4 separate regions of the Homo sapiens genome follow, and all the other regions are linked to region 2. Evidence: fine-mapped expression QTL. A gene starts in region 2. Each other region holds a variant in brackets. All regions are shown on one strand. Distances are between the middles of the regions.

Region 1 (8,104 bases), 250 kb after region 2:
GAATATGATCACCTACATACAAACCCATGCACTGGAAAACAGCTACTATGGCTCACTTTCATCCCCCCAAGAGCCCAACGTGGGCTTTTTCCTATATGCTCTCAATACACTTCCCCAAGACACAAGCTGTCTCTCAAATAAGCTCTCGGGCAGAAAATCTCTCTCTCAGATGACTTTCAAGCCTAGAAATCACCATTTCTGACAAGCTATGAACAGTGAGGGTATTATGCCACAGAACAAACCAAGATCCACAAATGCACAAAAAACAAAACATCCAAAGAGACAGTCACTTGGATAGGCATGAATTTCATAAACAAAACTACCTATTTCAATTCTCTTGACTCCTCCTACAGAGTAAACAAATTTCTCTAAAACACAATGTCTTTTGACCAAAGAGAGTATGGGTTTCATATATTGTCTGACCCTCAAACCCAATTTCAGTCTCAAATCTGAGCTGATGTTCTCAAAAAGTTGACAGAAATTACAAAGCTGAGCCTATAAGCATTTTGGATCTACTCTGTGTCTCACTCAGGCAGAGAAGAAAAAAAAGAGTATCAGAACATTACCCTTCTTTGATCCGACCCTGGAAGACGCACTGAAGATTTCTTCACTGTGGTAACCTCGTGGGTCTTCTCGTTGGTTTTCTTTCCTTCAAACTTGGAGAATGTGAGGGATTGGGCCCCTTGGCTGCTCTGACTGCTGGCAAAGGCCTCTTCCTCCCACTGGAGTCTGCAATTCAAGAGAGGATTAGAATGATCTAGATATTCTCCAAGATTTCTCTGTATCTGAAGGTTATTACTCCATTTATTCAGGAGGATCTAAAGATTTTAGAACTAGAGACTAAATATGCAAAATCAGTCTGAGGTCTCACATAGCTACAGGATGGACTGCTCTTCATGCACTACAGATTTCAAATGGGATCTTCTCATGCTCATTCAGCAACTGCTCTAGGGTTACATGAAAGAAACCAAGTCTAGTCCTTTTCCCCAACAAGCTCAGTGAAATAAAGAAAGTCTAGTCCTTTTCCCTAACAAGCTCAAGGTTGGAACAAACAAAAAGGTAAGTAAACAACTGCTATATAATGGGACAGCTGCTACATCAGAGAGTAAAAATTGAGTGCTGTGAGAACACAGAAAAGAACAACGCAATCTGCTGGAGGAGTCTGATGAGGCTTTACAACGGTGCTGTTTGGGGTGAGTCTTAAAGGACAAACAGGATCCTTTTTTTGTTTCTGTTTTTTTTTTTTTTTTTTTTTGAGACAGTGTGTCACTCCATCACCCAGCCTGGAGTGTAATGGCACGATCTCAGCTCACTACAACCTCTGCCTTCCAAGTTCAAGCAATTCTCATCCCTCAGCCTCCCAAGTTATTGGGACTACAGGCACACACCACCACGCCTGACTGATAAGGATGATTAGGATTCTACGTGAAAGGACATTCCAGGAAGAAGGAACTACGAATGTGCAAGCCTGTGGTTTGCTTCACAACAAGCTGAATGTAGCCAGAGCACTGGCGTGTGATGAACTGTGATGCTGGCTACACAGGAAGGCACCAGAGGGTAGGGAATCTTGATTGCTAAGCCCATTGCTAAGCCTATTCTGGATTTCATCATGCGGTGGGGAAGCAAGAAAGACTGTAAATCCAAAAAGTTATTGTTGTCAGATCTGTGCTTTAGAAAGATCATGCAGGTAGCTGTAAGAACAACTTGAAGGATAGAGAAACCAGAGACATGGACAGGAATTAAGAGTATATTATAAAGGTTTAAGTAAAAGAAAATAAATACCTGGAAAAGAGGAGTAGAAAAGGTAAAATTCAAAAGACTTTTCTAAGTTGGAACAAACAGAACTTGGTCAAATTGTAGGTGCCAAGGGAGGTTAAAGAGAAATCAAGAGTGAAACCAAGGTTTTTTAGCTAACTTGGTAAAGAATGACGCCATTAACTGACTCACGAGAAGGGTTAGGAGGAAAATGTTCAGAATGGGGAGAATAATAAATAAAAGCAATAAATTTGGCTTCGGATTAGCTGCATGTGAACCATCTGTAATAAATAACAAACACAGGCCGGGTGCGGGGGCTCACGCCCTTAATCCCAACACGCTGGGAGGCCAAGGCGGCTGAATCACTTGAGCTCAGGAGTTTGAGACCAGCCTAGGCAACATGGTGAAACCCTGTCTCTACATAAAATACAAAAATTAGCTGGGCATGGTGGCATGCTCCTGTAGTCCTAGCTACTTGGGAGGCTGAAGCAGGAGGATCACTTGAGCCAAGGAAGCAGAGGATGCAGTGAGTTGAGACTGCACCACTATACTCCAGCTGGGGTGACAGAGCAAGACCCTGTCTCAAAACAAAACAAAACAAAAAACCAAGCACTATCTATAAGACAGTGGTTCTCCAAGTGTGATTCCCCAGACAGCAGCAGCAGCATCACCAGGCAACTTGTTAGAAATGCAGATTCTCTAGTCTTACTCCCAAATTACTAAAATCAGAGACTCTAAGGGTAAGGTCCAGCAATCACTGCTTTTACAAGCTTTCCAAGAGATTTAGCAGGGTCACAATTAAAAGCAGTAAGAAATAGAAACAAAAATCACAGGTGGAGGTGCTAAGTCTGAGGATGGAATCAGGACACCTCTTTCTCTGGAACAGACAAGAAGTTAATATAAAGGTATTAGTACATTTTTATGTGGCAAGGGGAGGAAGCTGAGGCAGTTGGTGCCTAGTGCCCTCTACTGTTTTTGAAACAGGATCTGCTACTGACAGCATCAGGCATGCAGTGGAAACCCTGAGGAGATCATTCATGTTCTGGGCTAAAATTTTCTCTTTGATTGACCACAGTCACTGAAAGCAATGTGTAATTTCTAATTCTCTGAGTTCACCACAGATGCCAGCAAAATAGTCACTCAACAAATATTGGCTGACTGGATGAAAAAAACAAAAAAACTACCAAGAAGATTTGGCAGAATTCCATTTGACTTTCTTCTGTTGAAGCAGTTTTAGAATTTCCAAAATGCTCTGGCAAAGAATTAACATTATTCATGGCATTTTATTAGTTCCTATGCTCACTAGCCATCCCATCATTTAATTTTTTTTTTTTTTTTTTGAGACAGAGTCTCACCCTGTCACCCAGGCTGGAGTGCAGTGGCACGATCTCGGCTCACTGCAACCTCCAACACCTGGGTTCAAGCAATTCTCCTGCCTCAGTCTCCTGAGTAGCTGAGATAACAAGTGCGCACCACCACGCCTGGCTAACTTTTTAAATATTTTTAGTAGAGATGGGGTTTCACCATGTTGGTCAGGCTGGTCTCAAACTCCTGACCTCAAGTGATCCTCCCGCCTCAGCCTCCCAAAGTGCTAGGATTACAGGCATGAGCCACTGCGCCTGGCTCATTATTTAATTTTTAACATCACTGTATTTCCAGATAATATAAACTGCCTTTGACTAATCTAATTTTTAAGGAAAAGTTAAATTTCTATAATGCAAGGACTATGTATACAAGTCAACAGATTTCTACTACTGTGTTTTATCACTGAGCTACATGCCACGCTGAATATATTAAAAGAACAAGGGAAATAATGCTTGATGAGTGCCATTTGCAAGCCCTGCACTGGGTACATCATATTTATTAGCTCATTTAATCTTCACCGGGAAATATGCCTATCTCCATTCTTCCACTCCAAGGAGCTTATTGTCTAAATTTGAGAACTAACACAACCCAAAGAATATAATCAGAAGTTAAGACATACACAAAATGAAGAAACTATTGAAAGCTGTTCATTAAAGGTTGACTGAGAAGAAGAGGAGAAAACATCCTTTTCCTTAATTTTAAACTGACTTGCTGATAGGTCAAAGCAGAAATTTAAAAAAATGTATCTGGACGGTGACAGAAGTATGTATCCAGTCACGTCACTGTTCAACTACCCCTAGTTAAGTCCTTTTACCGCTCCGCCAGCTCCCAGTCCTCCTGAATCTCCTTCTGCCTGGCTTTGTGGTACTCTTCCCTCCAGCACTTGGAGCAGAAACCCTGCCAGGCAGGGTTGCCGTAGTAACCACATCCTTCCTTGCACAGGAGGTCTGACTGATGCACATGAATTCCTCAGTGTTCAGACTTAAGGCTCATCTTCTTCCTGCTAACCAATGAACAAATAACAAAGTTCTGTTGAAAAGGAATTATCATTCTACCAACTAAAATCTTACCAATTATGAACAAAAAGTGAGTGATTCCATTATCTTCAAGCTGTAAGAGAGGGAAGAAGGGAATGAAAGAGGGAGGGAATGAGGGAGGGAAAGAGGGGAGGAAGGAAGAAGGAAAAAA[G/A]AAAAGTTAACTATGGTAAATTCCTGAAACAGTCATATTAAAGACTTATTCCCTGCCGAAAATACACAGAACCCATTAAGAAAGGGCTAACATTGGATTAAATACCTAAACGTAAAGGCTGGAAACTACAAAACTTAGGGGAAAAGCTTCCCAACACTGGATTTTGCAATGACTTCTAGGATATGACACCAAAAGCACAGGCAACAAAAGTGAAATCAGACAAATACATTAATTACATCAAGATTTAAAACGTCTGCACAACACAGGAACCAACTGACAGAGTAAAAAGGAACAACACACAGAATGAGAGAACATATCTGCAAACCACATATCTAATAAAGGGTTAATATCCAGAATATAAAGGAACTCCTACAAGTCAATAACAAAAAAATAATAATAATAATCCGGTTAACAAATGGGAAAGGACTTCAATAGACAATTCTCCAAAGATATACCAACAGCCGACAAACATGTGAAAAAATGCTCAACATCACTAATCATCACAGAAATGCAAATCAAAACCACAATGAGATATCACTTCATACCCATTAGGACGGCTACTGTAAATAAAAAAAAACAAACCCAGTATGGGCACAGTGGCTCATGCCACTTTGGGAGGCCAAGGTGGGAGGATCACTTGAGGTTAGGAGTTCAGGACCAGCCTGGGCAACACAGCAAGACCCCATCTCTACAAAAAAATACAAAAACTAGCGAGGTGTGATGGTGTATGCCTGTAGTCCCAGCTACTCGGGAGGCTGAGACAGGAGGATCGCCTCTCTAGGAGGTGCAGGCTGCAGTGAGCTATGATCACACCACTGCACTCCAGCCTGGGTGACAGAGCGAGGCCTTGTCCAGAAAGAAGAGAAGAGAAAAAAATTGAAATAATACCATAATTTCCAAAGTCAATTTTCTTTTCTACTGTATAATATTTAAAGTCATTTGTTCATAGTCTCACAGCTGCATGGTAAATCGCTACGCAACAATTTCCTTTCAAACTGAAACCACATGGTCCTCATTCTTCTCCACAATAACAAACTGCCAAACAAGCACAGTAAAAAAGCAGCACTCTACAGCATTCATTCAAGGGACTCACATGTGCAGATAAAATTAGGCCCTATATCTTGGAGGTCTCATTAATTTAACTCAAACATTTACTAAGTGCCAACTGTGTGCAGAGAACTGAGCTAGATGGCACTGGTGATGCAACTGATAGAACACGTCTTTGCCCTCATGAAGCTCATAACCAAAAGTACACGCAGACTGAAAAACACGGAAAAAGAGAAAGTGTTAGGAAACTGTTGGGGAGTAACGCACATACAAATTCTGACCTAGGGAGTACAGAGAGACCACTTGGGGATGCTGGTGATAGACCTTAAAGAGCCTTGTGTTGAAAGGGTCTTGGAAAGATGACAGAAAGAGGAAGGATATTCTGGACAGGAAGAATGCCTTTCACAAAAAGCTCAGAAGCAGGAAGGCAAATGTAAAATATGAATGATGTAGTATAGACAGAAGATAAACTAAAGAAGTTAGGTGGGAAGTCAAATCATGATGGATTTTTAAAACTCGAAGCTACTGAGTCCAGATGGAAAGTCACCAGCTATCAAACCTGACAGTATGCAATGTGCACTACTTTTGAGGATTCTGAAAAGCAAAATGGAGAAGTGGGGAAGACCAGAATTGAAAGTATCACCCAGCCGTCTAACAGATTACCACTTTCTCCCATCCAATACCACCAGCCAACCTGGAAATGGGCCCCACAGCACAGAGAAAGCTCCTCTAGTTCGGGCTCCAGGCATGTGAAAAGAAACTCTTAACAGCCAGAGAGAATATGGGGATCCCCCACTTACCATCTCCCCCTTCTCTTGAGCCACAGTGCCCAGCAGTCGTGTGCTTTGTCTGCAGCTATGGCTGAAATGAGAGTGCCGGAGCCAAACTCTGAGTCAGGAGAACTATGGATTTTTCCCAATCTCTATCCTTGGTCTCAAATGTGCAGGCAGTGGTGGAAGGACATGGCAGAGTGGAGTAACTAAATCCACAGTTTTCTGGACAAAAGAAAGAAAATATGAGCCCTTTGGGAACAAAAAGTGTGGGAAAAATTGCTGAGGAGAACTCAAGAAAGCAATTTCTAGGCTTACCCCTAGGCTGCATATGCATGGATCTGATGCTATTCAGTACCAAAGGTTTCCAAATTGGAACTAACGGAGAGACCACTATGCAGGTCTCATCAGATCAGCACATACACAAAACAGATGGAAACAGCACTACAAAACTCCCAACAATGGACTGACATTAAAGCCACAGCCCACAGAACCTGTATACCAAACTTGGCAACACAACAAAACACTTTTGCTCTGGGAATAACTGTTTAGAAAATGAAAAGACGGCCGGGCGCGGTGGCTCACGCCTGTAATCCCAGCACTTTGGGAGGCTGAGGCGGGTGGATCAAGAGGTCAGGAGATCAAGACCATCCTGGCTAACACGGTGAAACCCCGTCTCTACTAAAAAAACAAAAAATTAGCCGGGCATTGTGGTGGGCGCCTGTAGTCCCAGCTACTCGAGAGGCTGAGGCAGGAGAATGGCATAAACCCAGGAGGCAGAGCTTGCAGTGAGCCGAGATAAGTTGCACTCCAGCCTGGATGACAGAGTGAGACTCTGCCTCAAAAAAAAAAAAAAAAAGAAAAGAAAAGACAAGCTACAGAATGAGAGAAAATAATGGCAAATCACCTATTTGGCAAAGAACTTACGTACCCAGAATGTATAAAGAACTCTCAAAACTCAGCTGTCAGAAAACAAACCACCCAATTTAAAAATGAGCAAAAAATCTCAACAGACACTTTACCAAAGAAGTTATACACACCGGTGTCCCACATTTCCATGAGAGTCCTTTGCTACATACTGTCCAGTCAAAGATGTTTGTATATTGAACATCCTTACAAGAGAAAGATGATAGCTCCTTCCACAGCAGAAGACAATTTATTAACTGTCCAGTACAGTAAATATAATGTCTCCCTTCATATCAAAGGTTTGAAACATTTGTTTGCCACCCCTTATGAGAGCTGAGTTCCCTGAGCTTGGATTTCCTACTTGTGTCATTGCCCACAGGGAACTTACAGGGCAAAGGTAGTCCACGTGGACATGAGGCTGGTTCTGCTGATGTCCTGTGACCTGTGTCCTCCCCTTTTGCCTCCAACCCAGGAGTTTCATGTCTTGGGCCAATATCCATGAAACCATGGAGACTAACTTGCTACGTTTAAGTAGGGAGAACTCAAAATTCAGGTCCCTTGCAGTTACTGACATGGTGGCAAATAAGCATATGAATAGTTGTTCAACATTGTTCAATCATTAAAGAAATGCAAATTAAAACCACCATGAAATATCACTCAAATCTATTAGACTGGCTAAAATAGAAAATACTGACACAGACTGGGAAACATGGCAAAACCCTGTTTCTACCAAAAAAAAATACAAAAAAATTAGGGAGGGATGGTGGTGCATGGTTGTGGTCCCAGCTACTCAGTAGGCTGACGTGGGAGCATCACTTGAGCCTGGGAGGTGGAAGCTGCAGCAAGCCAAGATCACACCACTGCCCTCCAGTATGGGTGACAGAGTGAGACCCCACCTCAGAAAAAAAATAAATACTGACAATACTAAGTGGTAGCAGGGATGCAGAGCAACTAAAACCCTCATACCTTCCTAGTGGAATGCAAAATAGTACAGACACTAGAGAAAACAGGTTTCATAAAACTGTATACATACGATGACCATCCAACCATGCAATCCCTCTCCTGGGTATTTC
Region 2 (8,104 bases):
TATTTTTTTAAATATAATAGAAATGGGGGTCTCACTATGTTGTCCAAAGGCTAGTCTCTAACTTGTGGGCTCAAGCAATCCTCCTGCTTTGGCCTCCCAAAGTGCTGGGATGACAGGTGTGAGCCACTGCACCCAGCCTTTCTTTTTTGTTTGTTTGTTTGTTTGTTTGTTTGTTTGTACAGACAGGGGTCTCACTATGTTGCCCAGGCTGGTCTCAAACTCTTGGGCTCAAGTGATCCTCCTGCCTGGGCCTCCCAAAGTGCTGGGATGACAGGCGTGAGCTGCTGTGACTGGCCAAAAACCAGGAAGTAAATACCGTGTTATACTTGCCATGGTAGAGATGTGTGTAGTGGTAGAAATAGAACAACCTGGCTGGGCACAGGGGCTCACGCCTGTAATCCCAGCACTTTGGAAGGCCAAGGCAGGTGGATCATGAGGTCAGGAGATCGAGACCATCCTGGCTAACATGGTGAAACCCCGTCTTTACTGAAAATACAAAAAAATTAGCCAGACGTGGTGGCGGGCGCCTGTAGTCCCAGCTACTCGGGAGGCTGAGGCAGGAGAATGGCGTGAACTCGGAAGGTAGAGTTTGTAGTGAGCCAAGGTCGCACCACTGCACTCCAGCCTGGGCGACAGAGCGAGACTCCGTCTCAAAAAAAAAAAAGAAATAGAACAACTTGGCCAGGTGCAGTGGCGCACGCCTATAATCCCAGCACTTTGGGAGGCCAAGGCAGATGGATCACTTGAGGCCAGGAGTTTGAGAGCAGCCTGGCCAACATGGCGAAACCCTGTCTCTACTAAAAATACAAAAATTAGCAGGGCGTGGTGGCATGTGCCTGTAATCCCAGCTACTGGGGAGGCTAAGGCAGGAGAATCACTTGAACCTGGGAGGTGGAGGTTGCAGTGAGCCAAGATCACGCCACTGCACTCCAGCCTGGGCGACAGAGTAAGACTCTGTCTCAAAAAAATAAAAAGAAATAGAACAACTTTAGAGATCTAATGACCCAAGTTCAAATCCTAGCTCTTCCACTAACTCACAGTGTGACCTCCTCACATCCTATTCGTCCCTCGGTCAATCTTATCTGTTTTCTTCATCAAAACCCTGCAAGATAAGACTTAGTTCCCATTTTATAGATGAGGAAACTGAGGCTCCCTTACCCAAGATCACTCAGGCAGCGAGTGAAAGAGCCAGGGTGAGGTCCTGCTTCCTCCTGACTTCCAGCCTGAGCTCCACCAGCTCCACACTGGCTGCTTCTCAAATGCTAATGTAGGAGCCATTAATGTCTCCTTTAAGGGAACATTAAAGGAAATGGCCAGTATAACATGGTATTTATCTCCTGGTTTTTGGCTTGGCTCATGCCTGGAATCCCAACACTTTGGGAGGCCCAGGCACGAGGATCACTTGAGCCCAAGAGTTTGAGACCAGCCTGGGCAACATAGTGAGACCTCTGTCTGTACAAACAACAACAACAAAAAGGCCCAGTGGGCTGGGCGTGGTGGCTCAAGCCTGTAATCCCAGCATTTTGGGAGGCTGAGATCTCAGGCGGATCACCTGAGATCGGGAGTTCGAGACCAGCCTGACCATCATGGTGAAACCCCGTTTCTGCTAAAAATGCAAAATTAACCGGGCATGCTAGCGCATGCCTGTAATCCTAGCTACTCGGGACGCTGAGTCAGGAGAATCGCTTGAACCGGGGAGGCGGAGGTTGCGGTGAGCCAAGATCACACCATTGCACTCCAACCTGGGGAACAAAAGCGAAACTCAGTCTCAAAAAAAAAAAAAAAAAGTGCAGTGTCTCACACCTGCAATCCTAGGTTTCCCTTAAGGGAAACGTGAATATCTCCTGCAACTGCCCTCTCCGAGCCTAAACCCTCTGCACAGCAAATGCAGAAAACTCTTTCTACAGAGAGCTAGGTGGGCTGACTGGCCATGCCATCCTAGACTGGTGTACCTCAGGTCTCCTCTTCAAAAAATATCTTGAAATTCTTGCCAGAAATTCAGTGTGAAATGCATTCGGGATGGTGGCTGTTGTTATAACAGTCCCCAGGGGTCTCAATTACGTGAGAACCCTCGGCTTCTGGACAAGAGACAAGGAAGGGAAGTAGGTCACATCCCAAAGGCATCAGGGCTAATAACTTTGCATTGAACATTTTCTGTGGCCCCACTGTGTGCTAGGTGCCAGGGCTGTGGATACAGACACAGGTATAAATCAGACATGGCTTCTGCCCTTGGTAAGCTCACAATTACGGGCACAAATATGCAATGATAGTATAATATGGGAAGTGCCTCAGGAGGCTGAGGCAGCGAACTGCTTGAACCAGGGAGGAGGAGGTTACAGTGAACAGACATTACAGCACTGCACTCCAGCCTGGGTGACAGAGCAAGACTTCGTCTCAAAAAAAAAAAAAAAAAATTCCTGGAAGACTTGTTGCCTAATTTTAAGTTACTTAACTTCTCTGTATCTCCATTGCTTCATCTGTAAAACGGGCGTAATTACAGAACCAGCCTCACAAGGGTTGTGAAAATGTAATGAGTAACTACATAAAAAGCACACAACAGGCTAGGCATGGTGGCTCACACCTGTCATCCCAGCACTTTGGGAGGCCAAGGCGGGACGATTGCCTAAGCCCAGGAGTTCAAGACCAGCCTGGGCAACAGAGCAAGATCCCATCTCTACAAAAAAGAAGCAGCTAGCTAGGTGCGGTAGCACGCACCTGTGGTTCCAGCTACTTGGGAGGCTGAGGCAGGAGGATACCATGAGCCCGGGAGGTCAAGGCTGCAGTGAGCTATGATTGTGCTACTGAAGCAGGACACACAAGCCCCAAAATTTAGCCTCCTTCCTTCAGAGCCAGCAGGAGCTTCTAAGCTATGGGGGGCAGCAGTTACAGCTGAGTCAAACCAAAGCCTGCAGCCAAGGGCAAGGAGCTGATAACACTAGGGTGGGTGTGTGGGGAAGGAGCCAAATACTTCTACCATGTGAGGGGAGGGAGTACTGGGCAGGGTCACTGGAGAAAGCGAAAAAGGTAGTACCCTTGAAGGTACTGCTGGGCACAGTGGCTCATGTCTGTAATTCCAGGACTTTGAGAGGTCAAGGCAGGCTTATCACCTGAGGTCAGGAGTTCGAGACCAGCCTGGCCAATGTGGTGAAATCCCATATCTACTAAAAATGCAAAAATTAGCTGGGCGTGGTGATGCACACCTGTAGTCCCAGCTACTTGGGACTCGGGAGGCTGAGGCACAAGAATCACTTGCATCTGGGTGGCAGAGGTGGCAGTGAGCAGAGATCACGCCACTGCACTCCAGCCTGGGTGACAGAGTGAGACTCTTGTCAAAAAAAAAGGAAGGTCTACCTTAAACAGCTGTTCTCCAGCAAAAGCACTTTTCAAACTGTAAAGTGCTGAAATAGATCTCGGTTATGAGTGTTCTATTACATCCCTAACTTTTGAGTCCCTTCCATTGAATCCCTCTCCCGTTTCCTGTCCCTTTTCCTTTTTTTTTTTTCCGAGATACAGTCTTGCTCTGTCACCCAGGCTGGAGCGCAGTGGTGCGATCTCGGCTTGCTGCAACCTCCGCCTCCTGGGTTCAAGCGATTCTCCTGCCTCAGCCTCCGGAGTAGCTGGGATTACAGGCACGCGCCACCATGCCGGGTTAATTTTTGTAGTTTTATTAGAGACGGGGTTTCACCATGTTGGCCAGGCTGGTCTCTAATTCTTGACCTCGTGATCCGCCCGCCTCGGCCTCCCAAAGTGCTGGGATTGCAGGCGTGAGCCACCGTGCCCAGCCTCCTGCCCCTTTTCTTCAATATGAAGATAAAGCTGCCCCTGGCTGTACTGGAGGCCAATTCCGGGCCATAGCAGGAGGAACTGAGTTCTAATTCTGTCTTTGCCATGTAACTGAATTACCCAGGGCCCTCCCTAGTCCTGTTTCCTCTTTGGTGTAATAGGGATGAATACAGATGGGAAGATCGTGATATGAAAGAGTTCTGTGAGCTGTAAGGCATAATAATCATGAGGTATTATTACAGGACCAACAGGTGCCTAGGCCCGCTGTGCAATAACAGACCAGTTACACTGAGGAAGCAGGGTTATCAGCAGAAAAAGGGTTTAAAGATGGCAGGGTGCCTAGGAGGAGACGCAGGGAGACCAACAAATCCATCTTCCCCAAGGAGTTCCGGGCTGGGATTTTAAAGGGCATTGTGAAGGGTGAGGGGCTGGAAAATTGGGGTCATCGACTGGTCAGGGTAAGGGGGTTGAAATCCTCAGGATATGGAAACTGCAGTCCCCATTGAGTCTTGCTTCTGTGGGCTCCTTCAGAACAACTGGTGTCAGTAATTATGCTGGTATGCGGGACCTGAAAGAATATCTCCAAGGGAAAACGTTTCATAATGTTCAAGTTGTTATCTATGGAGTTAAGGGGAATTGTAATCTTGTGACAGGGTCTACGTGATTCTAGGACAGACGATGGGCACCTATCATAGCTGATACACAGAGCTATGAGCAAGCAGGTCGGAGAGCAAGGTGACCTAGTGATGAACGCAGAGTGTGCTGCAAGCTTCGTTTATTTTCGTTTTTCCCCCTCCCTTCTTCCCTGATTAATTTCCTAAAGTTTATAGGAGCAGTTTCAGTACCAGCCCGAGTAGGATGGAATCAAACACGGTGCTGGAACATTCCTACCCGGAAGTGGCCCCGACCCCCCTCCCCCCGTCCCGGCCTCCCACGCACGGGGGGGGGGGGGGGGGGGGCTGATCGGCGCTACCGGATTGGACAACTTGGCATGGGGCGGGGCCTCTGGGAGGCGTGGCCTCCGGCCGGCTCCTCTGCTGTTGCCAAGGGAAACTGCCGCGAGGAGGCGGAAGGAGCAGAGGACCGGCAGCCGGCGTCGAGGCGGGGCGCGGGAACGACGGCGGCCATGGCGGCCTCGGGGCCCGGGTGTCGCAGCTGGTGCTTGTGTCCCGAGGTGCCATCCGCCACCTTCTTCACTGCGCTGCTCTCGCTGCTGGTTTCCGGGCCTCGCCTGTTCCTGCTGCAGCAGCCCCTGGCGCCCTCGGGCCTCACGCTGAAGTCCGAGGCCCTTCGCAACTGGCAAGGTGAGCAGGGGCGGGCCGGGATCGCGGGGCGAGTCCTTGTCCTCCGACTTTGCCGGTTCCTGGGCTCTAGCCTCCGGGACTCGCCCCTTCAGGCCTCACCGCCAGTCTCCCCCTGTCTCGGTCCTCATCACCATGCCCGCCCCCCGGAGGACCGACCTCCAGCACCGTCTCTTGCTCTCCGTGTTCCACACCTTTGTCTGCAGACCCCATCTTCGTCATCACTGTAATCCCTTCCCTACCCGAATTTGTTCCCTTCCCTGTCGCCACCAGACTGGTTAAGGCCCCAAATCCATTCGCTAGCAAATCCATGCTCGCTCTCCAAGGGTAAAGATTTTTCGTCTCCCCCTCCCATTTCACATACACACCTACGTCTGCTTTAGGCCTAAGCCCCACTGAAAAACGTTTTTCTCTCACCTACATCACGACAATTGGACTTTATCCACAAACCCCTATAAGCCCTATAAACGTCCTGCCCTCTTGAGATTTGGAATTTCTTCTGCTTTTTCATCTGTATCTTAATCTTGACTGCCATTCCCAGCTCATGGGGGTACCAGGGTGTCTTCTGCCTTTGGAGAGAAGTGTTTGTTTTTCTCTAGGGGAGAGAAATTTTGCAGACCAATTAAGTATAAACATCCATTCCTGAAAGACATTCCTAGTCTCCGTGTCTTCCTCATTTTCTCGAGAGGAACACAGGAAATTTGCATATCTCCTGCTGTTTTGCAAAGCACACACACTGATATGTATTAATTTCGTTTAACCCTCACAAGGATCCCATGACGTAGGACCTGTTATTGGCCCGTTATCTAGATAAGATTGAGGTTTCATGCAGAGAATCGCAGAGCTGTTGCGTCATGCAATTGAGATAGGAATCTATATTTTTTTTTTTATTCTGTGATGTTTTGGAACTAGAGCCTTCGGGTAGATAATCTCCAAATCATGTACAGTTGCTTCTAGAATCTTTTCATGTTTATACTTGGAATTTCAGTTTTGGAAATACTCAACAAATAATGAAGTACTCTTCAGATAATGAAGCCTCTGGTGATGGCCAGACTGAGGTATATGGTTCCATAGCCTGCTTCCCCACTCCAATCTAAAACTGTTCCCCCCACCCTAGGTATACATAGCACCACCTCACAGACAGAAGCAAAATGCCAACCTAACCTTAACCTCCCACTTTCTGGGGTTCACTGCTTCCCTGGGTGTGGGTTTCGTGGATATGTGAGCGTTAGAGACGTAAGGGACCTTTGAAGTCCTCAATCTAACTCTTGTTACTTTACAGTGAGGAAACTGACGCCTAGAGGACCTGTGACATGATTAAACTCAGCCAGCCTGGATGTAATAGAGCCAAGATTCCACTCCAAGTCTTTAGACTCCCAAGTCCAATATTACCATCAGTTCTTTGGTCTCTCTCCTTGAGTTTAGTCGTATTTGGGCATGCAGGGACATAAAAATACTTAAGAGATAACCACTTCTAAAATTTTTTTAGAGATAGGGTCTTCGTCTTACCCAGGCTGGAGTGCAGAGATGCAATCATAGCTCACTGCAGCGTTCAACTCCTGGAATCAAGCGAGCCTCCTGCCTCAGCCTCCCAAGTAGCTGGGACTACAAGTACACATCATCACACCTGACTAATTTTTAAATTTTTTTTAAAGACGGGGGTCTCACTATGTTACCTAGGCTGGTCTTGAACTCCTGGGCTCAAGTGATCCTTCCACCTAAGCCTCCCAAAATGCTGGGATTACAGGTGTGAGCCACCATGCCTGGCGATAACTGCTTTTAGAAAAATAAAAGGCCAGGAATGATGGTTCGTATGTGTAGTTTCAGCACTTTGGGAATTCAAGGCAGGAGGATCACTGGAGGCCAGGAGTTCAAGGCTAGCCTGGGCAACGTAGCAAGACTTTGTCTCTACAAATAAAAATTTAAAAAAAGGAAAAGGAGGATTCTTTGATGTCTTATTACATATAAAGCATCAGTTTACCTGTGAGATCGGATAAGCACTTTCTGAGGAGACTTATAATTTCTATAATCTTTATTGTTAATGATAGTGTTATAATTCTTACAGCTGCAAAATAATTCATGGTCCCTTTTTTCTTCCTCTGAACAGCCACTATGGAAGGAGGGGTCAGGATTACAGCAGAGGAGACTGGCACACAGAGTGTTAAGTGACACCCACTCAATCCACCCCGAAGCTGTTACACTTAATTAACCCTCAAACTGCCCAGTGAGGTAGGTCAGTATGAAAACCTGAAAAAGGATTATAAAGCACTTTACAAATTCAGAGACTGCCCTCTACCGAAAAGTATTATTTTTTTCCCTCTGGAAGTCAGTTACCGCTAAGAGTTGCACCAGGCCTGGGGAAGTGTAGGGATTAGATATTCATGCCTCTCCTTTGAGGCTCTGGGTCCTTCATTGTTGAACGCACTGCTTGTATTGCCTCCTGCTGCGACTCACTGGCTCTCACTTCTCTGTCACGGAGGGGGGCTCTCTGCCTTTCCTAGGCGGCTTATAACCTGGCTTCCCTCCTGGGAGCAACCCGCCGCCAGGCCTCTAACCCGACTCCCTCTGCAGTTTACAGGCTGGTAACCTACATCTTTGTCTACGAGAATCCCATCTCCCTGCTCTGCGGCGCTATCATCATCTGGCGCTTTGCTGGCAATTTCGAGAGAACCGTGGGCACCGTCCGCCACTGCTTCTTCACCGTGATCTTCGCCATCTTCTCCGCTATCATCTTCCTGTCATTCGAGGCTGTGTCATCACTGTCAAAGCTGGGGGAAGTGGAGGATGCCAGAGGTTTCACCCCAGTGGCCTTTGCCATGCTGGGAGTCACCACCGTCCGTTCTCGGATGAGGCGGGCCCTGGTGTTTGGCATGGTTGTGCCCTCAGTCCTGGTTCCGTGGCTCCTGCTGGGTGCCTCGTGGCTCATTCCCCAGACCTCTTTCCTCAGTAATGTCTGCGGGCTGTCCATCGGGCTGGCCTGTATCCTTCCTAGCAGAGAGCTATAGAACAACGCATGTCAA
Region 3 (8,104 bases), 430 kb after region 2:
AGTGCTTCTTAAGGAAAGATACATATAGTAGGAGATGTGACAGTAATCTTCCTCCTGGCCCCTCTCAGCACTGTGCCATGGAGGTTCTGATCTGGGCCAGCTGCGCTGTTAGGGGAAGGGGGAAAATGGCCAAACCCCATGTATTCTCCTTCCTTTTCCCTCTCTTCAATCCCAGGCAGGTAACAATAATTATGATGTACCAGGCTCCGGGCCAAAGTCATCACCTGCATTAGGTCACCAAATCCTCAGGCCAACCCATTACAGTCATGAGTCACTTAATAACAGACACATTCAACAAATTCCTTGTTAGGCAATTTCATCATTGTGGGAACATCTCAGAGTGGACTTACACAAACCTAGATGGTCTAGCCTACTACACACCTAAGCCATATGGTCTAGCCTACTGCTCCTAGGCTACAAACCTCTACAGCATATGACTGCACCAAATATTGAAGGCAGCTGCAACATGAGGGTAAGTATTAGTGTTTCTAAAGATAGAAGATGGCCAGGCGCGGTGGCTCACGCCTGTAATCCTAGCACTTTGGGAGGCCCAGGCGGGTGGATTACTTGAGGTCAGGAGTTCAAGACCAGCCTGGCGAACATGGTGAAACCCCATCTGTACTAAAAATACAAAAATTAGCCAGTGTCGCGGCACTTGCCTGTAGTCCCAGCTACTCAGGAGGCTGAGGCAGAAGAATCACTTGAACCTGGGAGGTAGAGGTTGGAGTGAGCCTAGATCAGGCCACTGCACTCCAGCCTGGGCGACAGAGGGAGACTCCATCTCAAAATAAATAAATAAATAAATAAATAAAACATAGAAGATGTACAGTAAAAACACGGTAATTGTTTTTGTTTGTTTGTTTTGAGACAGGGTCTTGTTCTGTCATGCGGACTGGAGTGCAGTGGCACCATCAGGCTCACTGCAGCCTCGACCTCCTTGGCTCAAGTGCTCCTCCCACCTCAGCCTCCTGAGTATCTGGGACTACAGGTCCACGCCACCATGCCTGGCTAATTTGTTCTGAATTTTAGTAGAGATGGGGTCTCACTGTGTTGCCCAGGCTTGTTCCAGCCTTCTGGCTTCAAGTAATCCTCCCACATCAGCCTCCCAAAGTGCTAAGATTACAGATGTCAGCCACTGCACCCAGCCAGTAATATAATTTTATGGGACCACCTTCATATTTGCTGTCCCTTGCTGACTTACACATCTTTATGCAATGCATGACTGTTACCATCATTATCATCTCTATTTTCCAGATGGGGAAACTGAGGCACAAAGAATCTAACTTGCACAAGTTCATCTGCTTAGTGATGGAACAAAGATGTGAATTCAGGCAGTCTGGCTTCAAAGTCCACACGCCTAACAACCACACCAGATTACTAGATTGCTTTTTTCTTTTTTCTTTTTTTTTTTTTGAGATGGAGTCTCACTCTGTCACCCAGGCTGGAGTACAGTGGTGAGATCTCGGCTCACTGCAACCTCTGCCTTCTGGGTTCAAGCAATTCTCCTGCCTCAGCCTCCCCAGCAGCTGCGATTACAGGCGCCCGCCACCACACCCAGCTAATTTTTGTATTTTTAGTAGAGATGGGGTTTCACCATGTTGGCCAGGCTGGTCTCAAACTCCTGACCTCTGGTGATCCTCCCACCTCGGTCTCCCAAAGTGCTGGGATTACAGGCGTGAGCCACCACGCCCAGCCCAGACTGCTTTATTTTTGTATTTGTATTTATTCATTTACTTATTTTGAGACAGGGTTTTGCTCTGTAGCCCAGGCTGAAGTGCAGTGGTGCAATCCAGCTCACCACAGCCTCTACTCACCGGGGTTCAAAGGATCCTCCTGCTTCAGCCTCTGGAGTAGCTGGGGCCACAGGCATGCACCACCATGCCCAGCTAATTTTTAAATATTTTTTGGTAGAAGTAGGGTCTCACTATGTTGCCCAGACTGGTCTCAAACTCCTAGCCTCAAGGGACCCTTCTGCCTTGGCCTCCCAAAGTGCTGAGATTACAGGCATGAGCCATGCACCCAGCCCCTTTTTAAAATTTTTTTGAGAGACAAGACTTTGATCTGTTGCCTAGGCTGGAGTGCAGTGGTGAGATCATAGCTCACTGCAGCCTCAACTCCTGGGCTCAAGCACCAGACTCCTTTTATCACATTCTATCTCACACGCGTGTGGTTCCAATCCTGCCTCTGCCACTTCTCAGTTGTATGCCCCAACCCAACCTGTCTGGCTCTGTCCTCCTTAACAGAAGGACGGCCCTGGCCACGGGCCACAGCCAGCAACGCTTAAGCACCAGGGCCGGCGAGTGCCCTGCCGTGGCACGGCTCCAGCGTCGCGCTCTCGAATTCATTTGCTTTCCTTAACGAGAGAAGGTTCCAGATGAGGGCTGAACCCTCTTCGCCCCGCCCACGGCCCCTGAACGCTGGGGGAGGAGTGCATGGGGAGGGGCGGCCCTCAAACGGGTCATTGCCATTAATAGAGACCTCAAACACCGCCTGCTAAAAATACCCGACTGGAGGAGCATAAAAGCGCAGCCGAGCCCAGCGCCCCGCACTTTTCTGAGCAGACGTCCAGAGCAGAGTCAGCCAGCATGACCGAGCGCCGCGTCCCCTTCTCGCTCCTGCGGGGCCCCAGCTGGGACCCCTTCCGCGACTGGTACCCGCATAGCCGCCTCTTCGACCAGGCCTTCGGGCTGCCCCGGCTGCCGGAGGAGTGGTCGCAGTGGTTAGGCGGCAGCAGCTGGCCAGGCTACGTGCGCCCCCTGCCCCCCGCCGCCATCGAGAGCCCCGCAGTGGCCGCGCCCGCCTACAGCCGCGCGCTCAGCCGGCAACTCAGCAGCGGGGTCTCGGAGATCCGGCACACTGCGGACCGCTGGCGCGTGTCCCTGGATGTCAACCACTTCGCCCCGGACGAGCTGACGGTCAAGACCAAGGATGGCGTGGTGGAGATCACCGGTGAGCCCCCCTGCTCCTGCAGGGGAGAGGAGGAGGCTAGCAGGGCGGGCAGGGCCGGGGGCGTGCGGTTGAAACGGGGGTCCCGGGGGCCTGGGGAGTTAAACGTTGGCCCAGCACCGGGAAAAACAGGACTCCTGATTCCCTTGCTCAGGAATTGGGAGTGCGGGTCGCTTCTAAGGGCGCTTTCTGCTCTGTAATCCCAGCGCTTTGGGAGGCCGAGACGGGAGGATCGCTTGAGGCCAGGAGTTCAAGACTAGCCTGGGCAACATAGCGAGACGCGCCCCCCCGCCCCGACCCCGCGCCATTACAAAAAAAAAGCAAACAAAAATTTTTTTAAAGATCATCGATGAAGAGAGAAAATGCGCTTTTCTACAGAGTCCCCTTCCCACCCACAGCCCCATCCCCAGATAAGCGGGGAGTTCCCTGGCGCGGTGCCAGTTTCTAGCCGCTGAGTGGGCGTGTGCGCGGCTCCAAGTGCGCCTGCGTACTGCTCACTCCCCAGCTCCGCGCCCTGCTCCGTTCCTCCCAAAACTCTGAATCGAAGAACTTTCCGGAAGTTTCTGAGAGCCCAGACCGGCGGGCACGCCCCCATCCCCAACCCCCTCTGTTAATCCCTACCAGCCTGCAGTCCTGGCTGCTTCCAAGCAGGAGGTGGGGCCTCTGGCCTAGCGGGGCCGAAAGGCAGTCCCCTCCCCCGCAGTCTGATTTCCCTCTTCCCCCCAAAGGCAAGCACGAGGAGCGGCAGGACGAGCATGGCTACATCTCCCGGTGCTTCACGCGGAAATACACGTGAGTCCTGGCGCCAGGTCGGGGTGGGTGGGTGGCGTGGGGGTGGGGTCAGGGAAGAGGGCACAGGGACCCACCCGGTGTGTAATGTAACGCTTGCCTTTCCTCTCTGCACGTCCAGGCTGCCCCCCGGTGTGGACCCCACCCAAGTTTCCTCCTCCCTGTCCCCTGAGGGCACACTGACCGTGGAGGCCCCCATGCCCAAGCTAGCCACGCAGTCCAACGAGATCACCATCCCAGTCACCTTCGAGTCGCGGGCCCAGCTTGGGGGCCCAGAAGCTGCAAAATCCGATGAGACTGCCGCCAAGTAAAGCCTTAGCCCGGATGCCCACCCCTGCTGCCGCCACTGGCTGTGCCTCCCCCGCCACCTGTGTGTTCTTTTGATACATTTATCTTCTGTTTTTCTCAAATAAAGTTCAAAGCAACCACCTGTCACTGGCCCAGGCCCTGGTGTTTGTGGAAGGAAGCCTCAGGCACCTGCCATTTGCTGGCTTTCAGGAGTCATCTTTGCTCAGGCCCGTGCTGGGCCATGTGGGTA[C/T]ACTGGTGTAGGTTGCTGGACACAGGCTGACTCACATCCATAAAGACAGAGGTCTTAGGGCCGGGCGCAGTGGCTCATACCTACAATCCCAGCACTTTGGGGGGTTGAAGCAGGAGGAGTGCTTGAAGCCAAGAGTTCTAGACCAGCCTGGACAACATAGTAAGACTGTCTCTAAAAAATAAAAATTAGGCAGGGTGGTACTGCACGCCTGTAGTCCCAGCTACTCAGGAGGCTGAGGCAGGAGGATCGCTTGAGCCCAGGAGTTGTGAAGGGTACAGTGAGCTAACATCGTGCCATTGCACTCCAGCCTGGGCAACAGAACAAGATCCTGTCTCAAAACAACCAAAAGCCCAGAGAGAAAGAGTGAGACCCCATCTTTAAAAGAAAAAAAAAAAAGGTCATGATTGCAAGGTCACGATTGCAATTAAAACTGTAAGGTGGGGAAGGAGGAGGAAATAAGAGAAGCACCTGAGGCTTGAGTTCTCAGGAGCACCTAGGTTGGGTCCCAGGTGAAGGGGCACAGAGGTAATTGCACCTCAGAGCTGATGGGAGGATTACTATGTCAAAAGCTTGGCATCGGCTTCAGCACACCCCAAGGACACCACAGTGGACCTGGCAAGCTTTGAGATCTCTGTCACCGCCACACTCCCTGAGGCCAGGGCATCCCTGTTGGCAGTCACAAGGGAACTGGCAAGCCGAAATGGGGTGAGAACGGAGCCCGCAGAGTCTCGGGGTGGGGAGATTGGGCAGAGCCCTGGCCAACCGACGGGCTCAGACCTGTGCTGCTGGCTGGGCCAGCAGCTCTTGTTGCCTGTGTTTATTTCCAGCTGGCCTCCCTCCAGGTGTAGACAGGCTTCCAAGGGCCCAGTTCCCCTCTCTCTTGTCTGCCCTTGCCCTAGCTGCCACCCTCTCACCAGGCCCAGGGAAAGTTGAGGTAGAAAGCAGATGGGGGACCAGGCGCGGTGGCTCACACCTATAATCCCAGCACTTTGGGAGGCCGAGGCGGGTGGATTACCTGAGGACAGGAGTTCGAGACAGCCTGGCCAACAGTGAAACTCCGTCTCTACTAAAAGTACAAAAATTAGCCGGGCATGGTGTTGCATGCCTGTAATTCCAGCTACTCAGGAGGCTGAGGCAGGGGAATCGCTTGAACCCAGGAGGCAGAAGTTGCAGTGAGCCAAGATCCATGCCACTGCCCTCCAGCTTGGGGGACAAGAGCAAAACTCCATCTAAAAAAAAAAAACAAAAAACAGATGGGAGCTTTGGAGCTCAGTCCCAAGGTCCTCAAATATTTGAGGGACCCAGAGTCTGAGGCTGTAGCAAGATACTCCCATGTTCAAGGCGGAGCATGCAGTGAGCCGAGATCGTGCCACTGCACTCCAGCCTGGGCGACAGAGGAAGACTCCGTCTCAGAAGAAAAAAAAAAAAAAAAAAAAAAAAAAAAAAATACTCCCATGTTCTTTTCTCAGCCCACAGTCTGACTTTCCCAGGTTCCCTAAGAAGGGTGGCACCCTGCAGGCGAGGGCCTGGAGCATGTCCACACCACCCCCAATATCACCCCCCACCACCTTGCTGCTTTTTTGAGACCAAGTTTTGCTCTTGTTGCCCAGGCTGGAGTGCAATGGCGTGATCTCGGCTCACTGCAACCTCCGCCTCCCAGGTTCAAGCGATTCTCCTGCCTCAGCCTCCAGAGTAGCTGGGATTATAGGCGTGCGCCACCCTACCCGGCTAATTTTTGTATTTTTAGTAGAGACAGGGTTTTTCTATGTTGGTCAGGTGGGTCTCGAACTCCCAACCTCAGGTGATCTGCCCGCCTCAGCCTCCCAAAGTGCTGGGATTACAGGCGTGAGCCACCACGCCCGGCCCCAGCTTCTTTTTTAGGGACAGTCTCCTACTGTCATACAGGCTGGCGTGCAGTAGTGGGATCTTGGTGCACCATACCAAAGTGTTGCAGCCTGGAACTCCTAGGCTCAAGGCATCTCCAGGAGCGCGCCACAAGCCTGGCTGATTTTTTTTTTTTTTTTGGTAGACAGAGTCTCGCTATGTTGCCCAGGCTGGTCTCAAACTCCTGAGCTCAAGCCATCCTCCTGCGTTGACCTCCCAAAGTGCTGGGATTACAGGGGAGAGCTGCTGCGCCCAGCCCAGTCTACTCCCTCGAGTTCCCTGTCCAGAGACCCACATCTGGAGCAGGGTGGGGAGTCAGAGCAGGTCCCAGCCCACGCTCTAGGGCTCAGCTCAGATGATGTGAGCCTGGGGCAGCACCTCTGGGCATAGTGGGCTCTGGCTGGCAGGACAGGACAGGCTGGCCCAGATCTGGGGGTCTCTGCTGGGTGTTAGATTTGTGGAGTCTTTGTGCTGCTTCTGGGGTGGTGGGGCAATTCTGGGCCTCTCCAGGCCTGTCCTGCCTTTTCTTTTTTTTTTTAGATGGAGTCTCACTCTGTCAGCCAGGCTGGAGTGCAATGGCATGATCTCAGCTCACTGCAAGCTCCGCCTCCCGGGTACAAGCGATTCTCAGGCCTCAGCCTCCTAAGTGGGATTACAGGCACCTGTCACCACGCCTGGCTAATTTTTGTATTTTTAGTAGAGTCAGGCTTCCTCCATGTTGGCCATGCTGGTCTCAAATTCTGAAAGAGGAGAATTGCCTGAACCTAGGAGGTGGAGGCTGCAGCGAGCTGAGATTGCACCACTGCACTCCAGCCTGGGCAACAAAGTGAGACTCGGTCTCAAACAAACAAAAAGGCAGGACAGGCCTGGAACTGCCCCTCCCCCCCAGGACGGGTGTTGTCTAGGGCTTGCTGACCTCACAGTCTGTGAGATCAGGCAGCCCCGGGCCTTGGCTGCCCAGGAGTGAATTATTTCCAGGCGCCATCATCACTCCGACTATAGAATCAACAGGATTTGACAGGTGCAGCTTTCGACTGCTCTGTTGAGAGGGTGGAGACAGAAGCAAAAGCTGCCCACAGAAAGGCGACAGGGAACCCCAGAGCTAGGTCCCAAGAGCCTCTTGGTGATGGAGGAGAGCCACCAAGGGACAGGAGGGTTGGGGGAACTGGAGCTCCGGCCCAGGGACAGAGCCCCAAACCACCTCCAGCCCAGGCACAGAGCCCCAGACCACCGAAGCCCTATGCCACCATGGCAGAGCCCAGGGCAGGGCAGGGGTCAGGCTGGCCCCCCCAAACACCTCCCCACCATTCCCACATGCATACACCAGGACCTGGGGGGTTGCAACAGTGCCAGAGGTCACGGGTTGGCAGGGGAGGGAGAGGAGGAAGAAAGCAGAAGAGCAGAGGGATGCGGGTGAGGCTGGGCTTGTCTCAGACAGTCTGGCACTAGCCCTCAAAGCTCAGAATCCCTGATATGGGGGCTAAGCCCCACTGCCATACTGCCCCTCCCAGGGAAATTGCCCCCCAGGGAATATGGGGGGAACCTCTGAGTGTAGCTCCCCTGGGGCCTGGAGGGCATATCAAGACATGGGGGATAGTGAACAGCATCATAGCTCTAAGTGTCCCTGATCTGGCTGGGCGTGGTGGCTCACCCCTGTAATCGCAGCACTTTGGGAGGCTGAAGGGGGCAGATTAGCTGAGGTCAGGAATTCAAGACCAGCCTGGCCAACATGGCAAAACCCGTCTCTACTAAAAATACAAAAATTAGCCGGGTGTGGTGGCGCACGCCTGTAATCCCAGCTACTCAAGAGGTTGCAGTGAGCTGAGATCAGGCCACTGCACTCCAGCCTGGGCAACAGAGCAAAACTTTCAGGAAAAAAAAAAAGTGTCCCTGATCTGTAAATGTGTAGTGGAAACTATAGAAAGGCACTGCAGGCTGGGCGCAGGG
Region 4 (8,104 bases), 130 kb after region 2:
GGCAAAGACCTTCTCCTGAACTCCAGGTTTCTAGCCCAGGAAGCTCTGCTACCAACTGGCCTCCCAGTATGGGGCGGACAGGACCATCGTCATCCCAAAAACAGTCAGGAGCTGACAGAGCCAGTGTAGCCTGAGTGCCAATCCTGACTGCCACTCACTGGCCGTGGGGCTTGGGCAAGTTACTTCCTTTCCTTTCCTTCCCCCATCTCCTCTCTTCTTTCCCCTTTCTTCTCCTCTCTACTCCTCTCTCTCCTTTCCTTCTTTCTTTGTTGAGACAGAGTTTCACTCTTGTTGCCCAGGCTGGAGTGCAGTGGCACAATCTCAGTTCACTGCAACCTCTGCCTCCTGGGTTCAAGTGATTCTCCTGGCTTAACCTCCCGAGTACCTGGGATTACAAGCACCTGCCACCACGCCCAGCTAATTTTTTGTATTTTTAATAGAGATGGGGTTTCACCATGTTGGCCAGGCTGGTCTCCAACTCCAGACCTCAGGTGATCTGCCTGCCTTGGCCTCCCAAAGTGCTGGGATTATAGGCATGAGCCACTGCGCCTGATTTTTTTTTTTTTTTTTTTTTTTTCAATATAGACATGCAGTCTCACTATGTTGTTCAGGCTGGTCTTGAACTCCTGACCTCGGGTGATCTGCCCACCTTGGCTTCTCAAAGTACTGGAATGACAGGTAAGAACCACTGTGCCCAGCCTATTTTTATTTATTTTATTTTAGAGACTGGGTCTTGCTCTGTTGCCCAGGCTGGAACGCAGTGGTGTAATCACAGCTCACTGCAACCTTGAACTCCTGGGCTCAAGTAACCCTCCGCCTTAGCCTTCTGAGTAGCTGGGACCACAGGCATGTGCCACCATATCCAGCTAACTTTTTTGTACAGATGGGGTCTCACAATGTTGCCCGGGCTGGAGGGTAAGTTACTTGAGGCCACGGTGTCCTCATCTGGAAAACGGGATCACAGTATACTACCTACTTCATACAGTTTGGTTTTGTTCTGTGCTGAGCCCAGTGCCTGGCACAGAAATATCAGCTCTAATCACAGCACCCCTGAAGCTGTGAGTCCTGCCCAGGGAGAGGAAATCTAAGCTGGCACCCGAGGCTGGTCTGGCAACCCTCAGGAACTGAAGATAAGCCTACCAAGTGCAAAATCACAGACTGCCAGGGCTGAAGAAGGACGCAGAGATGACGATGGCCACCTTCCTCACCATCTGAATAAAGGAACTGAGCATGCAGTTTAATTTATTGACTGGCTCAGTGCTACCCAGGGAGGCAGGCTAGATGGGGTCCCTCCTTGGGCCACAAGGCTCTGCCATCTCGAGGTGGGACACATGGGAAGTCTCAGCCTCAGGCCCTGGTTGAGCAACATTTGACATCTACTGGGCAAATAAAGGATGGTTGGGGCTGGGTGTGGTGGCTCACGCCTGTAATCCCAGTACTTTGGGAGGCTGAGGTGGGTGGATTGCTTGAGCTCAGGAGTTCAAGACCAGTTTGGGCAACATGGCAAAACCCCATCTTTACTAAAAATGCAAAAATTAGTTGGACGTGGTGGTGCATGCCTGTAGTCCCAGCTACTTGGGAGGCTGAGGTAGGAGGATTGCTTGAGCCCAGGAAGTAGAGATTGCAGTGAGCCAAGATTGTGCCACTACACTCCAGCCTGGGTGAACAAGCCAGACCCCGTCTCGAAAAATAAAATTTAAAATAAGGGATGGTTGGGCCAAAATGCCATGCTCCAGCCCCTGGTACAGTGGCTCAGGCCAGGAGCTGTTGGTGCCAGACAGGCAGGCATGGGGTGGGGACTCTGACCTGACTCAGCCCTGCTCTCTCTACAGATCTTACTCTCCTCTGGCAATCTGGAGCCCCAGGAATGAGTAAAAAATCCACTCTTGATGAGTTAAGTAACTGGTGGGCATCACTTGGGTGTGGTGGCTCATGCCTATAATCCCAGCACCTTGAGAGGCTGAGGTAGGAAGATCGCTTGAGGCCAGGAGTTCAAGACCTGCCTAGGCAACATAGCAAGACCCCAACTCCACCAACCAACCAACAAACAAAAACAAAGAAAATCTTGGAAGTCAGAACTGAAAGAGCTTTGTAGTCTTCCTTCCATTCCACCGACATCCCACAGACCAAGGATGAAGGCGGGGATGGAGAGAGATAGATTTACTACTGGTCCCCAGAGCTCAGCCCAGAGCCTCCATGAGCATGTGCACTTGTGGGTAGCCATCACTCTCATTTTACAACAAGCCCAGAAGGGCACAGCCATCTAGCCAGGGCCAGAGCCTTGGGCCCCACTGCCCCCGAGGTAAACACCACGGTTGCTCGTTTCACTGAGGGCTCCCCAGAAGTTGGACGTGTCCTGGAGCTTGTCCCACCCAGATGGAGCATATGCCGAGCTGGGCCCTTTCTCTCTAGAGCATGGGGAAATCACGGTCCAGAATAAGCCTGTGAAGGAGGCTCCACTGCCCCTCTGCTTCCCAGACACAGGCCAGTTGCTACCCGGCCAAGGAACGCTCCTTACCAATGAAGTGACACATGTGGCGTAAGAAGGGAAGAATCTGGGCTTCCGGGGAATCTTCTATCCGGATGTGCAGAAGCTTGTCAGCATCGCCTGCAAAACTACACGGAAGGACCACACAGGTCATCAGGTGGAATGCAGAATGCAGGCATCCCCATTGTGGGGTTTTCATCACAGCAGAAGGGCCACAGGGAGGACGCTGAGCTTGTGTAAGGGGGAATGTGCACAGGTAACTCAACCTCTCCTGGAAAAAAACATCCAGGCTGGGTGTGGTGGCTCATGAATAAGCCCAGTAATTTGGGAAACAGAGATGGGAGGATCACATAGCGAGACCCTTGTCTTTTTTTTTGTTTGTTTGAGACAGATTCCCGCTCTGTTGCCCAGGCTGGAGTGCAGTGGCACGATCTCGGCTCACTGCAACCTCTACCTCCCAGGTTCAAGCGATTCTCCTGCTTCAGCCTCCCAAGTAGCTGGGATTACAGGCATGTGCCACCACAACCGGCTAATGTTTATATTTTTAGTAGAGATGGGGTTTCACCATTTTGGCCAGGCTGGTCATCAAACTCCCAACCTCAGCTTATGTACCCGCCTTGGCCTCTCAAAGTGCTGGGATTACAGGTGTGAGCCACCACACCCAGCCAAAAAAATTTTTTTAAGTACCTATCTTGGCCAAGCATGGTGGCTCACACCTGTAAACCCAGCACTTTGGGAGGCCAAGGCAGGCAGATCACTTGAGGTCAGGAGTTCGAGACCAGCCCAGGCAACATTTTGAAACCCTGTCTCTACTAAAAACTACAAAAATTAGCCGGGTATGATGGCACACACCTTTAGTCCCAGCTACTGGGGAGGCTGAGGCAGGAGAATCACTTAACCCTGGAGGCGGAGGTTGCAGTGAGCCAAGATTGTGCCACTGCACTCCAGCCTGGGTGACAGAGCAAGACCCCATCTCAAAAAATAATAAAATAGGCCAGGCGCGGTGGCTCATGCCTGTAATCCCAGCACTTTGGGAGGCCAAGGCGGGATGATCACAAGGTCAGGTGATCGAGACCATCCTGGCTAACACGGTGAAACCCCATCTCTACTAAAAATACAAAAAACTAGCTGGGCGTGGTGGCGGGCGCCTGTAGTCCCAGCTACTGGGGAGGCTGAGGCAGGAGAATGGCGTGAACCCAGGAGGCGGAGCTTGCAGTGAGCCGAGATTGTGCCACTGCACTCCAGTCTGGGTGACAGAGTGAGACTCCGTCTCAAAAAATAATAATAATAAAATAAAAACTAAAGGGAAGGGATAGCATTAGGAGATATACCTAATGCTAAATGACGAGTTAATGGGTGCAGCACACCAACATGGCACATGTATACATATGTAACAAACCTGCCCATTGTGCACATGTACCCTAAAACGTAAAGTGTAATAATAATAAAATTAAAAAAAATAAATAAAATAAATTTAAATATTATATAAAAAATAAAATGAAATATAAATCAGTAGTTTCTCTTTACTTACAAGGGCCCTGTATCCATGGAGACATTGACATGGGCTTTGATTTTCAAGTCCTTCTGAATCTTGGGGTCACAGGCTTGACTGAAATTGCCAACGAAGACCTTCCCTGGCACGATTTCAATGGGGTATGGCTGAAATGCATCCAGTTCCTGAAGTGTGGAGGGAGAAAGGCAGCTATGAGCATATTCCTCAGGGAAGAGGGATGTCTATCTCTTGAAACACAGCTCAGCAAACGAGCGTAAAAGGGCAGTTCCAGGACAGTGAATGTGACGGAGATCCAGACTTTGAAAGAGATTGGCACACGGTAACTTGCATGGGGTGGCACAGGGCGAGTCATGACGAAAGGACTGAGCCTCATCGTGCAGAGCGCTGGGTCTCAGCACTGGTGTCCATTCCCTCCGTGGCAACTGTTTACACTTGGCCAGGTGCACAAAGGTTGCAGTGAGGACGCTGTGGCCCAGAACTGTAACAACCCAGCATGTACTGGGGGCTCAGGAGGATGGAGAGGGACAGCTCTCTTAAGACCACCAGAATTTAAGCATCGAGAGAGAGAGAGAAGGAGGAGGAGGAGGAAGAGAGAGGAGGAGGAAGAGAGAGGAGGAGAGAGGAGGAAGAGAGAGGAGGAGAGAGGAGGAGGAGGAGGAGAGAGGAGGAGGAGGAGGAGGAGGGAGGAGGTGGAGGAGGAGAGAGGAGGTTTCATCATGTTGGCCAGGCTGGTCTTGAACTCCTGACCTCAAGTAATCCACCTGCCTCGGCTGCCCAAAGTGCTAGGATTACAGGCGTGAGCCACTGTGCTCAACCCATCTTTTTCTTTTCTTTTCTTTTTTTAAAGATACAGGGTCTCTCACTCTGTCACCCAGGCTGGAGTGCAAGTGGCTCAATCATAGCT[C/T]GCTGCAGTCTTATCTTCCTGGGCTCAAATGCTTCTCCTACCTCAGCCTCCCAGGTAGCTGGGACTACAGGTGCGCATGACCATACTCAGCTAATTTTGATACTTTTATCTTTTGTAGAGATGGGGTCTCACTATGTTGCCCAAGCTGTCCTCGAACTCCTGGCCTGTAGTGATCCTCCTGCCTCAGCCTCCCAAAGTGTTGGGATACACATGTGAGCCACCCTGCATGCCCAGAAATGAAGCCAGTGTATGTGCAGAGGGGTAGAGAGAACAAGACACCTACTTAAATGGGAGCTTCCTGAGTTCCAGGTCCAAAGTTATCATTAAAACTTTCGTTTGCCGGGCGCAGTGGCTCAAGCCTGTAATCCCAGCACTTTGGGAGGCTGAGGTGGGCGGATCACGAGGTCAGGAGATCGAGACCATCCTGGCTAACACGGTGAAACCTCGTCTCTTCTAAAAAATACAAAAAATTAGCCGGGCATGGTGGCGGGCACCTGTAATCCCAGCTACTTGGGAGGCTGAGGCAGGAGAATGGCATGAACCTGGGAGGCGGAGCTTGCAGTGAGCTGAGATTGTGCCACTGCACTCCAGCCTGGGCGACAGAATGAGACTCCGTCTCAAAAAAAAAAAAAAAAAAACAAAACAACAACAACAACAACAAAAAACTTTCGTTTATTTGAAACACAGACAAGGATTATCTCTACATTTCCCAAAGTGTGTTCTAAGAAACACTAGTCCCCCATAAGGCACTATGAGAAAAGGGTTCAGGGGTTCAGATAACCAAATGCAATCTGTGTGTTCCACATCCATATATTCAAGCAACCTTGGATGAAAAATATCCAGAAAAATAATTCATGGTTGCATCTGTACAGAACATGTACAGACTTTTTTTCTTGTCATTATTCCCTAAACGATACAGTATAACAATTATTTACATAGCATGTACATTGTATTAGGTATTATAAATAATCTAGAGATGATTTAAAGTATACACAAGAGGGGCCAGGTGAGGTGGCTCACATCTGTAACCCCATCACTTTGGGAGGCCGAGGCAGGCGCATCACCTGAGGTGAGGAGCTTGAGACCAACCTGGCCAACGAGTGAAACCCCATCTCCACGAAAAACACAAAAATTAGCCAGGCATGATGGTGCATGCCTGTAGTCCCAGCTACTCGGGAGGCTGAGGCAGGAGAATCACTTGATCCTGGGACGTGGAGGTTGCAGTGAGATGAGATCATGCCACTGCACCCCAGCCTGGCAACAGAGTGAGACTCTGTCTCAAATAAATAAAGTATACGAGACGATACGCTTAGGTTAGACGCAAATACTACACCATCTTGTATCAGGGAGTTGAAGATCCAAGGATTTGGTATCTATTGGGGGCCCTGGAACCAACCTCCATGGATACTGGACAACTGTACAAACGGACAGCTGTATCTATGATTCCTCTCTCGGAAACAACACGTACATTAGCAATCAAAGGTTCAAAGAAGTTGGGCACAGTGGCTGCTCATGCCTGTGATATCAGCACTTTGGGAGGCCAAGGTGGGAGGATCGCTTGAACCCAGGAGTTCAAGACCAGCCTGGGTAACACAGCAAGACCCTTGTCTCTACAAAAAATAAAAAATTCGCCAGGCATGGTGGCACATGGCTGTACTCCCGGCTACTCAGGAGGCTGAAGTGGGAGGATCCCACAGGAGTTTGAGGTTACAGAGAGTTATGACCGCATCACTGCACTCCAGCCTGTCTCTCAAAAAAAAAAAAAAAAAAATAGCCGGGCACAGTGCCTCATGCTTATAATCCCAGCACTTTGGGAGGCTGAGGTGGGTGGATCACTTGAGGTCAGGAGTTTGAGACCAGCCTGACCAACATGGTGAAACCCTGTCTCTACTAAAAATACAAAAATTAGCCAGGTGTGACAGTGCACGCCTGTAATCCCAGCTACTCGGGAGGCTGGGGCAGGAGAATCACTTGAACCCAGGAGGTGGAGCCTGCAGTGAGCCAAGATTGTGCCATTGCACTCCAGCCCGGGCAACAAGAGCAAAACTCCATCTCAAAAAAAAAAAAAAAAAAAAAAAAAAAAAAATCTCAAAGAAGCTCTGCAGTAGAGAAATCCACTCCAACTGGATAACTTGATGTTTCCATGAGGCTCTGATTAGAGACCACTTTCTCCATTATTACACCACAGAAAATGCTGACCTTTGCCAAAGATCAAAATCAGTTCCAAAAGTCCCCTGGCTCTAAGTCTGACTCAGAAATAACATTTTAAGGACCTCAGGCGTGTGGGTCCTTCAGAGCCACCTGAACTCAGCACATCTCACTCCCTTCCCCACGGCAGTGAACCCTCTGCAAGCCCACATCCTTCCCAAGCTACCAGCTTCGAAAGCCATTAGTAAAGAACAGACACCAAGCTGAGCCAGTTCTCCAGCCTGTGACACGGAGATGCATGACCCCCCACTGCCTGCGGGCAGGCCCAATTTACTCCAGCATGTGGGCTGCCCCTAACCCGGATGGACGCTCAGCTTGCTGGTGCCAAATGAAATCCCCCTTTCAATTTCCACTTAAAAATCTCGCTAAAAGGCCAGGCATGGTGGCTGATGCTTGTAATCCCAGCACTTTGGGAAGCTGAGGCAGGTGGATCACCTGAGGTCAGGAGTTCAAGACCAGCCTGGCCAACATAGTGAAACCCCATCTCTACTAAAAATATAAAAATTAGGCGTGGTGGCACACGCCTGTAATCTCAGCTACTCTGGAGGCTGAGGCAGGAGAATCACTTGAACCCAGGAGGTGGAGGTTGCAGTAAGCCCAGATTGTACCACTGTACTCCAGCCTGGGCAACAGAGATGCTATCTCAAAAAAAAACCAAAACAAAACAAAACAAAAAAAACCCCACAAAAATCCCATAGCAAATCTATCAACCCCTCTTCCTGCTGTTTTTAAACCAGCTTCCTTTTCTGCGGTTGTGTGGGTTTGGCTGGGAAGAGGGTGTGATGTGGATAAAAACACACTGTACTGTAGAATGTGTGTAAATGCTCAGTGACACAATGCAAACGAAACCAGTATCTCAAATGAATATGCCCGAACTGGGCACACTGCCTTCCCCCAAAACCACCTCCTTCTTCCCCCACCCCGCCCCCTCCCGAGTGTTCCCCAGAATGAACCACATCACAGCCCCCGTCACCCACGCCTAAAACCAGGG

Evidence for each region.
Region 1: its variant is fine-mapped to the expression of RHBDD2 in whole blood (TOPMed, PIP above 0.99).
Region 3: its variant is fine-mapped to the expression of RHBDD2 in whole blood (TOPMed, PIP above 0.99).
Region 4: its variant is fine-mapped to the expression of RHBDD2 in whole blood (TOPMed, PIP above 0.99).

Annotation. Positions count from the first base shown.
Region 1 is chr7:76,128,054-76,136,157 of GRCh38, forward strand. No RefSeq gene overlaps it. Among named protein-coding and RNA genes, the nearest start is that of SRRM3, 70 kb to the right of the region's middle. The variant G/A (reference allele first, on the strand shown) is at 4,309.
Region 2 is chr7:75,874,174-75,882,277 of GRCh38, forward strand. It overlaps RHBDD2 (rhomboid domain containing 2), which reads left to right and starts at 4,861. Exons shown (of 4, transcript NM_001040456.3): 1 at 4,861-5,087; 2 at 7,656-8,063. The coding sequence starts at 4,910. RefSeq lists an enhancer at 4,557-5,165 and silencers at 4,712-4,961, 5,062-5,241.
Region 3 is chr7:76,300,128-76,308,231 of GRCh38, forward strand. It overlaps HSPB1 (heat shock protein family B (small) member 1), which reads left to right and starts at 2,546. Exons shown (of 3, transcript NM_001540.5): 1 at 2,546-2,949; 2 at 3,675-3,738; 3 at 3,857-4,165. The coding sequence starts at 2,586. The coding sequence ends at 4,046. The variant C/T (reference allele first, on the strand shown) is at 4,274.
Region 4 is chr7:76,001,240-76,009,343 of GRCh38, forward strand. It overlaps STYXL1 (serine/threonine/tyrosine interacting like 1), which reads right to left. Exons shown (of 9, transcript NM_001317785.2): 6 at 4,020-4,165; 7 at 2,519-2,616. Among named protein-coding and RNA genes, the nearest start is that of TMEM120A, 11 kb to the left of the region's middle. RefSeq lists enhancers at 1-66, 7,247-7,426. The variant C/T (reference allele first, on the strand shown) is at 4,906.